Regions from separate parts of the Homo sapiens genome. Here region 2 is linked to region 1. The links come from fine-mapping of genetic effects on gene expression. A gene starts in region 1. The other region holds a variant in brackets. All regions are shown on one strand. Distances are between the middles of the regions. Region 1 holds the start of EIF3L (eukaryotic translation initiation factor 3 subunit L). Region 2 overlaps MAFF (MAF bZIP transcription factor F).

Evidence for each region. PIP is the estimated chance that this variant, and not a neighbour inherited with it, causes the effect. A credible set is the group of variants that fine-mapping cannot tell apart.
Region 2: its variant is the best candidate, but not a certain one, in a credible set for the expression of EIF3L in whole blood (TOPMed, PIP 0.61).

The regions. Positions count from the first base shown.
Region 1 is chr22:37,846,970-37,852,175 of GRCh38, reverse strand. It overlaps EIF3L (eukaryotic translation initiation factor 3 subunit L), which reads right to left and starts at 2,757. Exons shown (of 13, transcript NM_016091.4): 1 at 2,694-2,757; 2 at 2,113-2,161; 3 at 686-896. The coding sequence starts at 2,726. MIR659 (microRNA 659) reads left to right here and starts at 4,402; the gene lies at 4,402-4,498. It also overlaps a transcript of ANKRD54 not described here. RefSeq lists enhancers at 2,071-2,592, 2,593-3,115, 3,116-3,638.
Region 2 is chr22:38,204,650-38,209,855 of GRCh38, reverse strand. All of the region lies in intron 1 of MAFF (MAF bZIP transcription factor F), which reads right to left. Among named protein-coding and RNA genes, the nearest start is that of MAFF, 5.3 kb to the right of the region's middle. RefSeq lists a cis regulatory region at 2,274-2,291, enhancers at 2,212-2,356, 5,196-5,206 and a silencer at 5,006-5,055. The variant C/T (reference allele first, on the strand shown) is at 2,232.

The DNA.
Region 1 (5,206 bases):
TTATTATTATAATTGTTAATAGTGATATTATTTTAGGCTTTGTATAAATTTCTGAGGATATAAAGTCCAACAGGCCGGGCATGGTGGCTCACGCTTGTAATCCTAGCACTCTGGGAGGCCAACGGGGGTACATCACTTGAGGTCAGAAGTTCAAGACCAGCCTGGCCAACATGATGAAACCCCGTCTCTACTAAAAATACAAAAATTAGGCCAGGCATGGTGGCTCCCACCTGTAATCCCAGTGCTTTGGGAGGCTGAGGCGGGTGGATCACTTGAGGTCAGGGGTTCAACACACGCCTGGCCAACATGGTGAAATTCTGTCTCTACTAAAAATACAAAAAAATTAACTAGGCATGGTGGCACATGCCTGTAGTCCCAGCTACTCGGGAAGCTGAGGCTGGAGAATCACTTGAACCCAGGAGGCGGAGGTTGCAGTGAGCCGAGATCTTGCCACTGCACTCCAGCCTGGGCGACAGAGTGACACTCCGTTTCAAAAAATAAACAAATGCATAAATAAAATAAAGTCTAACAAAATAAAATGTCCCTAGCCTCAAGGACTCACAAAGACCCCCACCCCCCAACCCCCCCGAAAGTACTGTTTACAGAGTGCTCACCTCATTTGTAGGAACTATATTACCAGGCCAGTCCCACCCAGAAAGAGGCCCTTTCAGCCAGTAGCCCATACCTGTTCTCATAGATGTCCTGGATCTCATACACCTTCTGGTCAATGACATCACTGGAGACACGACTGGCCTGTAGCTCATACACTTTCTGGTCAATCAAATCTGAGACAGTTTTGTGGAAATACTGGATGAAGTTTTTGATCACCTCAGGGATCACCTGATAGGTTTGCTGTTCATACTGACGTTCATAAGCAAGGTCCTGCTTTGGATCTCCTGGAGGTTGGATACAACAAATACAGAGTATGCTCAAACCCACATATATGATAGAACGAAATGGCAAGACCACCCCAGAAACTAAACTCAGGTCTGCGTAAAATTCCCTTTTGAATACTCAGAGATACAAACATCTCAAGTCACTCCCAATCTCGTTGTCCCTGTTTCTTCAAAAATATTACCATGACTTAAAGTTATTTTTCACTTATTATCTGTTTTGCACCCTTCTCCCAAGTCTAGGAAGTCAGGAATCTCGTCTGTCTTGTACTCAGACATACCCTCAGGGCCTAGAAAAGTGTGCGTTGGAGGGGAGAGAGGCAAGACTGTTGGAAAGTAAGTGGTAACAGGTACTTAATATTTCTTGAATGAATAACTGTCACCTTTTAAATATATGACTGTGCCAAGTTACTACTAATAAACCTCTCTGCTATATTTTCTATTCTTTAGGAGACATTAACATACAGAACTGCTGTAAGGATTAAACAAAATATTTCATACAAAGTACTTAGAACAATGGATAACACTGACTACTAAGTCAAGTCACTATAACGTTTCAGGAAACCTCAGACACCTCCTAAAAAGATTTCATTCGGGCTTGGTTTGAATTACTTAAATTTTTCACATCAAGATTTTCTTCCTTGGGGCAGGCGCGGTGGCTCACGCCTGTAATCCCAGCACTTTGGGAGGTTGGGGCGGGTGGATCACCTGAGGTCAGGAGTTCAAGACCAGCCTGGACAACACGGCGAAACCTCGTCTCTATTAAAAAAATTTAAAAATTAGCTGGGAATGGTGGTGGGCGCCTGTAATCCCAGCTACTCAGGAGGCTGAGACAAGAGAACTACTGCTTGAACGAGGGACGCGGAGGTTGCAGTGAGCCGAGATCGCACCACTGCACTCCAGCCTGGGGGACAGAGGGAAACTCCATCTCAAAAACAAAAACAAAAACAAAAACAAAAAAGCTTTTCTTATTTGGCTAATAGTTTACACAAGAAAACCATAGCCAGGTAAGTAATCCTTCTCTTCCAAGACTGAGGTGGACTATGATAAAAAGCCTGGTTTATTAGGCTTTATAAAACCCCTCGCACTGGCAGCTAATGACTGACTCCAAACCTGGACCATCAAAGAGCAATTTTTGATGCCTGTCAGAGCTGGTTCTAAGACATTCCAAAGGAACTGATCCCTACGAGTACTCAGCCAGCCTAACCCGTGGTCTCACCTGTGTGCATATCATAGTCGCTGGGATAAGCGTAGGGGTCATAAGCCGCCTAGAAGGAAAGAGACACAGTCAAGGACAGCCGCCAAGTCGTGAATTCAAAACGCTCATCCTAGAGTCTAGATGCCAAGCAGAGAGCTAAGGATACAGAGGCGAATAAGACACTGTGCCTGCCTTTGAGGAACTCACACGCCTTAGAGAAAAGGGACAGTAAACAGACAATGACAATACAACATTACGGGTGCAATGAGGTGGAGCAAAGGACAAGAGGCTGTGGGAATCAGCGAGATTTGACCAGACGGAGCCTAGACCAAAAAAACTCAGGTGCAGAAACACAGAAACGTCTAACAGGCCTTAGTCTCCGGTCTTAGAAAGGGGAAGGACAAGCCAATCGAACACGCGAAGTGGGCGGGCAGAGCCAGGGTTGTCTAGGGACCGGGAACTGTGGGAGCAGCCTGAGGGCCGGGCGGGAGGTCGGCCGGAGCTGGCCGCGACCCGGAAGCTGCCTCGCGCCGGGACCCACATCCAGTGGTCCCAGAGATCACCCCGTCGTGGAGCCCACCGCGCCCTTACGGCCACCTTACCTCAGACTCATAATCATCAGCGGGATAAGACATGGCTGCCTCGCTTGCGAGCACCGCCGGAAAGAGCGAAATGAGCGGCCCGCGCCTGCGTCCTGAGGCCGGAAGTTCAGCCCCACTCGGGCCTGCCGGGAAACCGGAAGCCTTTCCGAGGCCTCTGGCCATCTGAGACAGCCATATCCAGAAGGAAGAGGAGCCGCGTTCCGTGGCTCACACCTGTAACCCCACCAGTTTGGGAGGCCGAGGCGGGCGGATCACCTGAGGCTGAGGCCGGGGGTTTGAGACCAGCCTGACCAATATGGAGAAACCCCGTCTCTACTAAAAATACAAAATTAGCCGGGAGTGGTGGCGCATGCCTGTAATTCCAGCTACTCGGGAGGCTGAGGCAGGAGAGTCGCTTGAACCCGGGAGGCGGAGGTTGCGGTGAGCCGAGATCGCGCCATTGCACTCTAGCCTGGGCAACAAGAGGGAAAACTCCGTCTAAAAAGAATAAGAGGGTTACAAGTAGCCTGAATTTTCCTCTCTTCAAATAGGGACTTCTCAAAGAAGGTGAATCTATAATAGTGGTGTAGATTCAGATATAAGGACACGTATTTGGCGTAAAGGAGAGGCAAAGTTAGAGGAACCAGAAAGAATGCTACACAAAAGATGGCCGGCTTCTCGCGTGAAGGAAGATTCGGATACGGGGGCCTGATGGATTTAGTTGTAGGCGGTTTGCCTGCAGCGAGTAAATTATTCAAACGTTCGGACTTCACAAGACTAAACTTACTGGGGATAAAAATTGAGATTTGGCCGGGCGCGATGGCTCACGCCTGTAATCCCTACACTTTGGGAGGCCGAGGCGGGTGGATGATCTGAGATCAGGAGTTCGAGACCAGCCTGGCCGAAATGGCGAAACCCCGTCTCTATTAAAAATACAAAAATTAGCCGGGAGTGGTAGCGTCCGCCTGTAATCCCAGCTACTCAGGAGGCTGAAGCAGGAGAATCGGTGGAACCTGAGAGGCAGAGGCTGTAGTGAGCCGAGATCGCGCCACTGCACTCCAGCCTGGGCGACAGAGCAAGACTCCGTCTAAAAAAAAAAAGAAAAAAAAAAATTGAGATTTGGTCCCATGCAGTAAGAGGGAATGGAGAACAGGAGCCACCCAACTTTGGACATTAAAGTTGGAGCAGGCAAAGATGAGGCCAGCTGTGTCGCGAAGCCTGGGACATGGGCAGCTCTTGAGTACACCGGGTTCGAGGCCAGGGGAAACCCTCAAGGTAGAGATGGGGTTATAAAGCAAACCAATAAAAACCGGTGTATGAGTCAAGGAGAGGCCTTAGTTTAGCCATCTGCCCATACACAACACCTAGTGGAAATCCGAGTTCCAGTCCCTACTCCGCCACTGATTTGCTGTGTGACCAGGACTCTCTGGGTCCCTTTGTCACGCCGCCCTCCTTGCTTTTCCCACTGAGGCACGCTCCACCTCTGGGATTTTGCACTCACTGTTATCCAAGTCTAGAATCGAATGCAGTGGCACCCCCACTCCCATTCCCTTCCCCATCGGTATCTGCATGGCACCTTCAGGTGTCTGCTCTGATGCCATCCACTCAACATCCTATTGAGAATTGCAATGCCCAGCCCCAACTCCCTATGCTGCGTTCTTGTTTTGTGTTTCTTCCTTGTGCTGTCACCAGAGGTGACACAAATTTGGAAATAATGGAGCTTAAGCTTTACCGACCCTCGATTTGGTTCAGGACCTTCCCTGAACCAAGGAAGAGTCACAGTCTCTTCCTTGGTTCAGGGAGGGTCCCCAACAATGTCCTCATGGTCCTTTGCTTTTGTAAAATTTGTGAAATATTTTTATTGCTGAAACCACCTTTGCAAAAATTGTAACAGTGAGAAAATAATGACAGTGAAAGAGATCTGATCTAACCAACCCTCATCTTCCATTTAATCTTCAGACTGCCCTTAATCATTCCTGGCTCGAACCGAGCTAACTTTGGGAGACATTTAGTTTCTAGTTTAAATAATAACCCTTCTCCGAGGCCTGGCACAGTGGTTCACACCTGTAATCCCAGCACTTTGGGAGGCCAAGGCAGATGGATCACCTGAGGTCAGGAGTTCGAGACCAGCCTGGCCAACATAGTGAAACCCCGTCTCTACTAAAAATATAAAATTAGCCGGGCATGGTGGCATATGCCTGTAGTCCCAGCTACTCGGGAGGCTGAGGCAGGAGAATCACTTGAACCTAGGAGGCGGAGGTTGTGGTGAGCCAAGATTGCACCACTGCACTCCAGCCTGGGCAACAAGAGCAAAACTGCCTCAAAAAAAAAAAGAAAAAAGAAAAGAAATTGGCCGGGCGCGGTGGCTCACGCCTGTAATCCCAGCACTTTGGGAGGCCGAGGCGGGTGGATCATGAGGTCAGGAGATCGAGACCATCCCGGCTAAAATGGTGAAACCCCGTCTCTACTAAAAATACAAAAAATTAGCCGGGCGTAGTGGCGGGCGCCTGTAGTCCCAGCTACTTGGGAGGCTG
Region 2 (5,206 bases), 360 kb before region 1:
GCAGGCCTTTTTTTTTTCCCTTTTTTTTTTTTTTTTTTTTTTGAGATGGAGTCTCGCTCTGTCGCCCAGGCTGGAGTGCAGTGACAGGATCTCAGCTCACTGCAACCTCCGCCTCCTGGGTTCAAGCGATTAGCTCTGCCTCAGCCTCCTGAATAGCTGGGACTACAGGCGCCTACCACCACGCCCAGCTAATTTTTGTATTTTTAGTAGAGACAGAGTTTCACCATATTGGTCAGGCTGGTCTCGAACTCCTAACCTCAGGTGATCCACCTGCCTCGGCCTCCTGAAGTGCCGGGATTACAGGTGTGAGCCACCACGCCCAACCCAATGCAGGCCTCTTAAGTGGTCACCCTCACCACCCTACACACACCTGGGGAGGTCCCAGCACACCTCCCTGCTGGTCTCAGCTCATTCCCACACAGCAGCTGGACAATCTTTGCACCACGCGAATCTGACCATGCCACCAGCCAGATTAAAGCCTTCCATGGTTCGGCTGGGCAAGGTGGCTCATGCCTATAATCCCAGCACTTTAGGAGGCTGAGGCGGGCGGATCACAAGGTAAGGAGATTGAGACCATCCTGGCTAACATGGTGAAACCCCGTCTCTACTAAAAAATACAAAAAATTAGCCGGGTGTGGTGGCAGGCACCTGTAGTCCCAGCTATCAGGAGGCTGAGGCAGGAGAATGGCGTGAACCCGGGAGGTGAAGCATGCAGTGAGCCGAGATCGCGACACTGCACTCCAGCCTGGGCGACAGAGTGATACTCCATCTCAAAAACAAACACAAAAACAAACAAGCAAACAAAAAAAAAACCTTCCATGGTTCCCTACTATCCTAAGGATGGAGTCCAGACCCACCCTCCCAGCACCCCAGGCCCTGTGTGTCCAGCCCCACGCCCATTTCCCACCACTGCCACCTCCACTCTGTGCTCCAGCCACACAGAATTTCTTTCACTTCCTCCCACCCGCGCTTTCTTGCCTCTGAGCCACCTCCCACCCCATGATATTTCTCTCCCCTCACTCCCCTCTACTTTGTTTGGCAGACTCCTACTCATCCTTCGGCCCTGGGTGCAGACATCTCCTCCTCCAGGAAGCCCTCCCTGATCCCTAGGACTTGTTAGGGACCCCCACCCCTGTGTGTAATGGGTTGTATTTCCTTGCTGTCTCTCCACCAGACAGGGAGAGGCTGAGTCAGCTCTGGGTGCTTGAGGCCACCCATCTCAAGACCTGGCAGGGAGCAGGCACTGGGGAAGGGTGGATGGTCAGAGTCTCTGACGCCATCACCCAGCTTGTCACCAAGCCGGGTTCCAAGCCGAAACGTAGTTCAGTACCTCCTGGCCCTGTCTCTAATTCTTCCTCCTCTCCAGCTGCTTCCTTGGGCCTGTTGGCAGAGACAGTACAGATGCTAGGCGAATGGGAAGAGAGCAGAGGGGATCCCATCCACGTGACTTTGGGCCCAAAGGTGGGGTGTGGGAAACAGGGAAAGGAGCACTGGATTGGGAGTCAAGCTTGGGTTTAAGTCGCATCTCTGTTTTCTCAGGCTGTGTGACCTGGGGTGAGCCACTCCATCTCTCTGGGTCTCCACTTTCCCATCTAAAGGATCGGAACAATACCTGCCTCGCAGGGTTTTGGTGGAATCAAGTGGTATACACTGTAGAGGTCAGTGAGCAGCTGGGAGGTTAGAATTGCTGTCTGTCCAGGAGGGGTCAGGCCTGTAGCCAGCACTGGGGTCTCGCTCTGATTTAGCATCTCCCAGCTGGCTGGGGTCACACAGGGAACTGCAGGAAAGGCCCTTAGAGGCCATCAGGTCCTGCCTCCTCCCTTTACCCAAGGGGAGGTAGAGACCCAGAGAGGGGCAGCACTTGCCTGAAGTCACACAATAGGTGTGAATGAATAGCTGCAAAGGCCCAGGACTGAAACCTGGTCCCTTCACACCGTCACCTCCCTGGTTCGCCCAACCCTGAGGTAATGCCCAGAGAGGACAATAGAGTAGTCCAGGCTCATACAGCCAGCATGGGGTAGAATTCAGGCCTGAGAGTTCAAGACCAACCTGGGCAAGATGGCTAGACTCCATCTCCAAAAAATAAAAAGATTAGCCGGGTGCAGTGGTGCACACCTATAGCCCCAGCTACTCAGGAGGCTGAGGCAGGAGGAACCATTGAGCCCAGGAATTCAAGGCGGCAGTGAGCTGTGATCCCGCCACTGCACTCCCTGGGTGACAAAGCAAGACCC[C/T]GCCTCTTAAAAAAAAAATTAGCCGGGTGTGGTGGTGGGCGCCTGTAGTCCCAGCTACTGGGGAGGCTGAGGCAGGAGAATGGCGTGAACCCGGAGATGGAGCTTGCAGTGAGCTGAGATCGCGCCACTGCACTCCAGCCTGGGTGACAGAGCGAGACTCTGTCTCAAAAAAAAAAAAAAAAAAAAAAAAAAAAAAAAAAAGATGGCCAAGCAAGGTGGCTCATGCCTGTAATCCCAGCACTTTGGGAGGCCGAGGTGGGCGGATCATGAGGTCAGGAGACTGAGACCATCATGGCTAACACAGTGAAACCCTGTCTGTACTAAAAATACAAAAAATTAGCTGGGCCTGGTGGCACACACCTGTAGTCCCAACTACTCAGGAGGCTGAGGCAGGAGAATCGCTTAGAACCTGGGAGGCAGAGGTTGCAGTGAGCCGAGATTACGCGACTGCACTCCAGCCTGGGTGACAGAGCAAGACTCCATCTCAAAAATAATAATAATAATAATAATAGAATTCAGGCCTGAGGCCACATGGAGCCACACACCTCCTCCCTGTGTGGCCCTGGCAGGGCGACCTCCCTGGGCCCTGTTTCCCTAGCCCTGTGAAGATGAAGCTGGACTTGCCAGTTTCCAAGGCCACCCCAGCTCTGATTCTCCAGGATTTGTGTTGGGCCCGCTAGGGATACGATTTGCAAGTTACAGTTAAGTATCCAGGCCCCCTTACCAGCCGTTTGGGGAGCTGGCACGTGCAGTGATGCTTGGCCACCTGAGCTACACAGAAAGACCCAATGGGAGAAGGGAAGCCTCTCCCCACGCAAGTTAATCAACTGCCCTTTGGGTGTTGCGGCTGATACAGAACCTCAGAGGCACAGTCTGGCCTCATGCACAAGTCATTTTTCCTGAGTCCTGGATTCCTTGCTAAGTGGGAATAATCACAATAATCTTGGTGTGTAAAATATAAAGGCTTAGGCAAGGCCAGGCGTGGTGGCTCACGCCTGTAATCCCAGCACTTTGGGAGGCCAAGGTGGGCAGATCATCTGAGGCCAGGAGTTCAAGAACGGCCTGGCCAACATGGTGAAATCCTGTCTCTACTAAAGAAAAAAAAAAATGCAAAAATTAGCCAGGTGTGGTGGCGCACACCTATAGTCCCAGCTACTTGGGAGGCTGAGGCAGAAGAATTGCATGAACCCGGGAGGTGGAGGTTTCAGTGAGCTGAGAACAAGCCACTGGACTCCAGCCTGGGCAACAGAGCGAGACTCCATCAAAAAAAAAAAAAAAAAAAAAGGAGGCATAGGCAAGAAAGATCACCTCATCTCACCATCATCCCACTATCCACAAGCAACAGAGACATCACTAACCACACACAGCACCAATTCCCAGTGAGGCAGGCCACAGCCCCTGAGTCTTTCTCAGCACAGAACTGTTTTCTCCTGAGCTTGGACACAGCCTAGAATCCTCAACACTGCCTCCAGACCAGGCCTGAGAGATGGAACCATCAGCCATTCCCTATCCTTGATAATAGCGGAAGCTGGCTGTGATTGTAAATACCCTCAGGTGCTAGGAAGGTTTTGAACCTGCTCTTCCCCCACTCCTCCATGCCCTCCTGTCCGAGCCTCAGCCCCCTCAACCGCATCCTGGATGTCAGCTGAGGCACCCACGTTTGCCCAGGAATGTCCTAGCTCAGCAGTCAGGCAATCACAGGGGGAAAGTCACAAGAAGGGGGAACTTTCTGGTAACCTCAGGCTTTCCGCTGCCAACCCCAGGCCAGGGGCTGCCAAGGGGCCTGGGTCCTCTGCCTTTGCCAGGCTGGCTGACCCTGGGCCTGAGAAATAGTAGCTGATCCGATCCCCTGTTCAGCACCTGAGGCAACCAAGCCACTGTTTGGTAGCCGTGGCGGACTGGAACCCAGGGGTCCTCTGTCTTCTATGTCGGCCACCACCACCTCTCCCTGGCTTCTTCCCTTGGAAGCCAGCAGAGCTGACCTCCAGGGTCTGCAGGTTCATGACGTCTTCTGGAGGCATAAGGAGAGAGGTGACTCTTGAGGGACTGACAACTGCCTTGTCCAGTCAGCAGCCACAACCCTCCAACGTCCCCCTCCCTGGCCCCACCAGTCCACTCCAGAGACATCCTGTAGAAGGCCCACCCGCTGGCATGGGCTCCTTTCTGGCTGCTGAGCCATTCTGCTCGCTCTGTGAGGACAGGGAAAAAATGTGTTTTCCTAGCTCTTGGCAGTCAGCACTGCTGGAGCCTCCTCCCTGCTGGAAGGGGAGCAAGGCTGGAAGAACCAAGCACCACAGAGAAGCAACGGCCTGGGGTTCCAGCCCCAGTTCAGGTACCCTCTCACACTCGCTGTGTGGCCTCAGGTACGGCACTCCCTCTCTCTGGGCCTCAGTTTTCCCACTATGCCAAACGTCCTCCGAGCCTAAGGTACCTTCCAACAATGACTGTCTCTGAGTTTAGAGTTTCAGATTCTGGCCCAGAGCTCCAAGACCACCAGCAGAATGGAGGTAGGGAAAGGAAAGCGGTGAAGGCTTCCTGGAGGTGGGGGCATGAGACACAAACTATCAGACTATCAGACTAGCCCTCTTCTCCACCTGCACAGCCACAGACCACTTCCTCCTTCATCTGGACCATGACCACAACCGCCTGCTCACCAGCCTCTTGCCTTGCCCTCCGTCTCCAATCCCCATCATTGATCCTCCCCCAAGAGCTGTCAGAGGAATCACTACTGACACAAACCCACGAGCCTGTCCGTGCTTGGCCCATTTCAAAACCCTGCAATGCCAGCCTCCCCGCAAGCCAACACAGTAGGGTCCTCAGGCCTCAACCGTATTCCTGTCCACTCTCTCCCAGGATCGTATGCTAACAGATGAATGAACAGACAGCAAATTCTACTATCCCTGAATGTTTCCCAAAGGGACAAGCGGGCAGTGCATGCCTGTGTGTGTGAGGGAGGAAGTTGCCTGAGTCCTGAA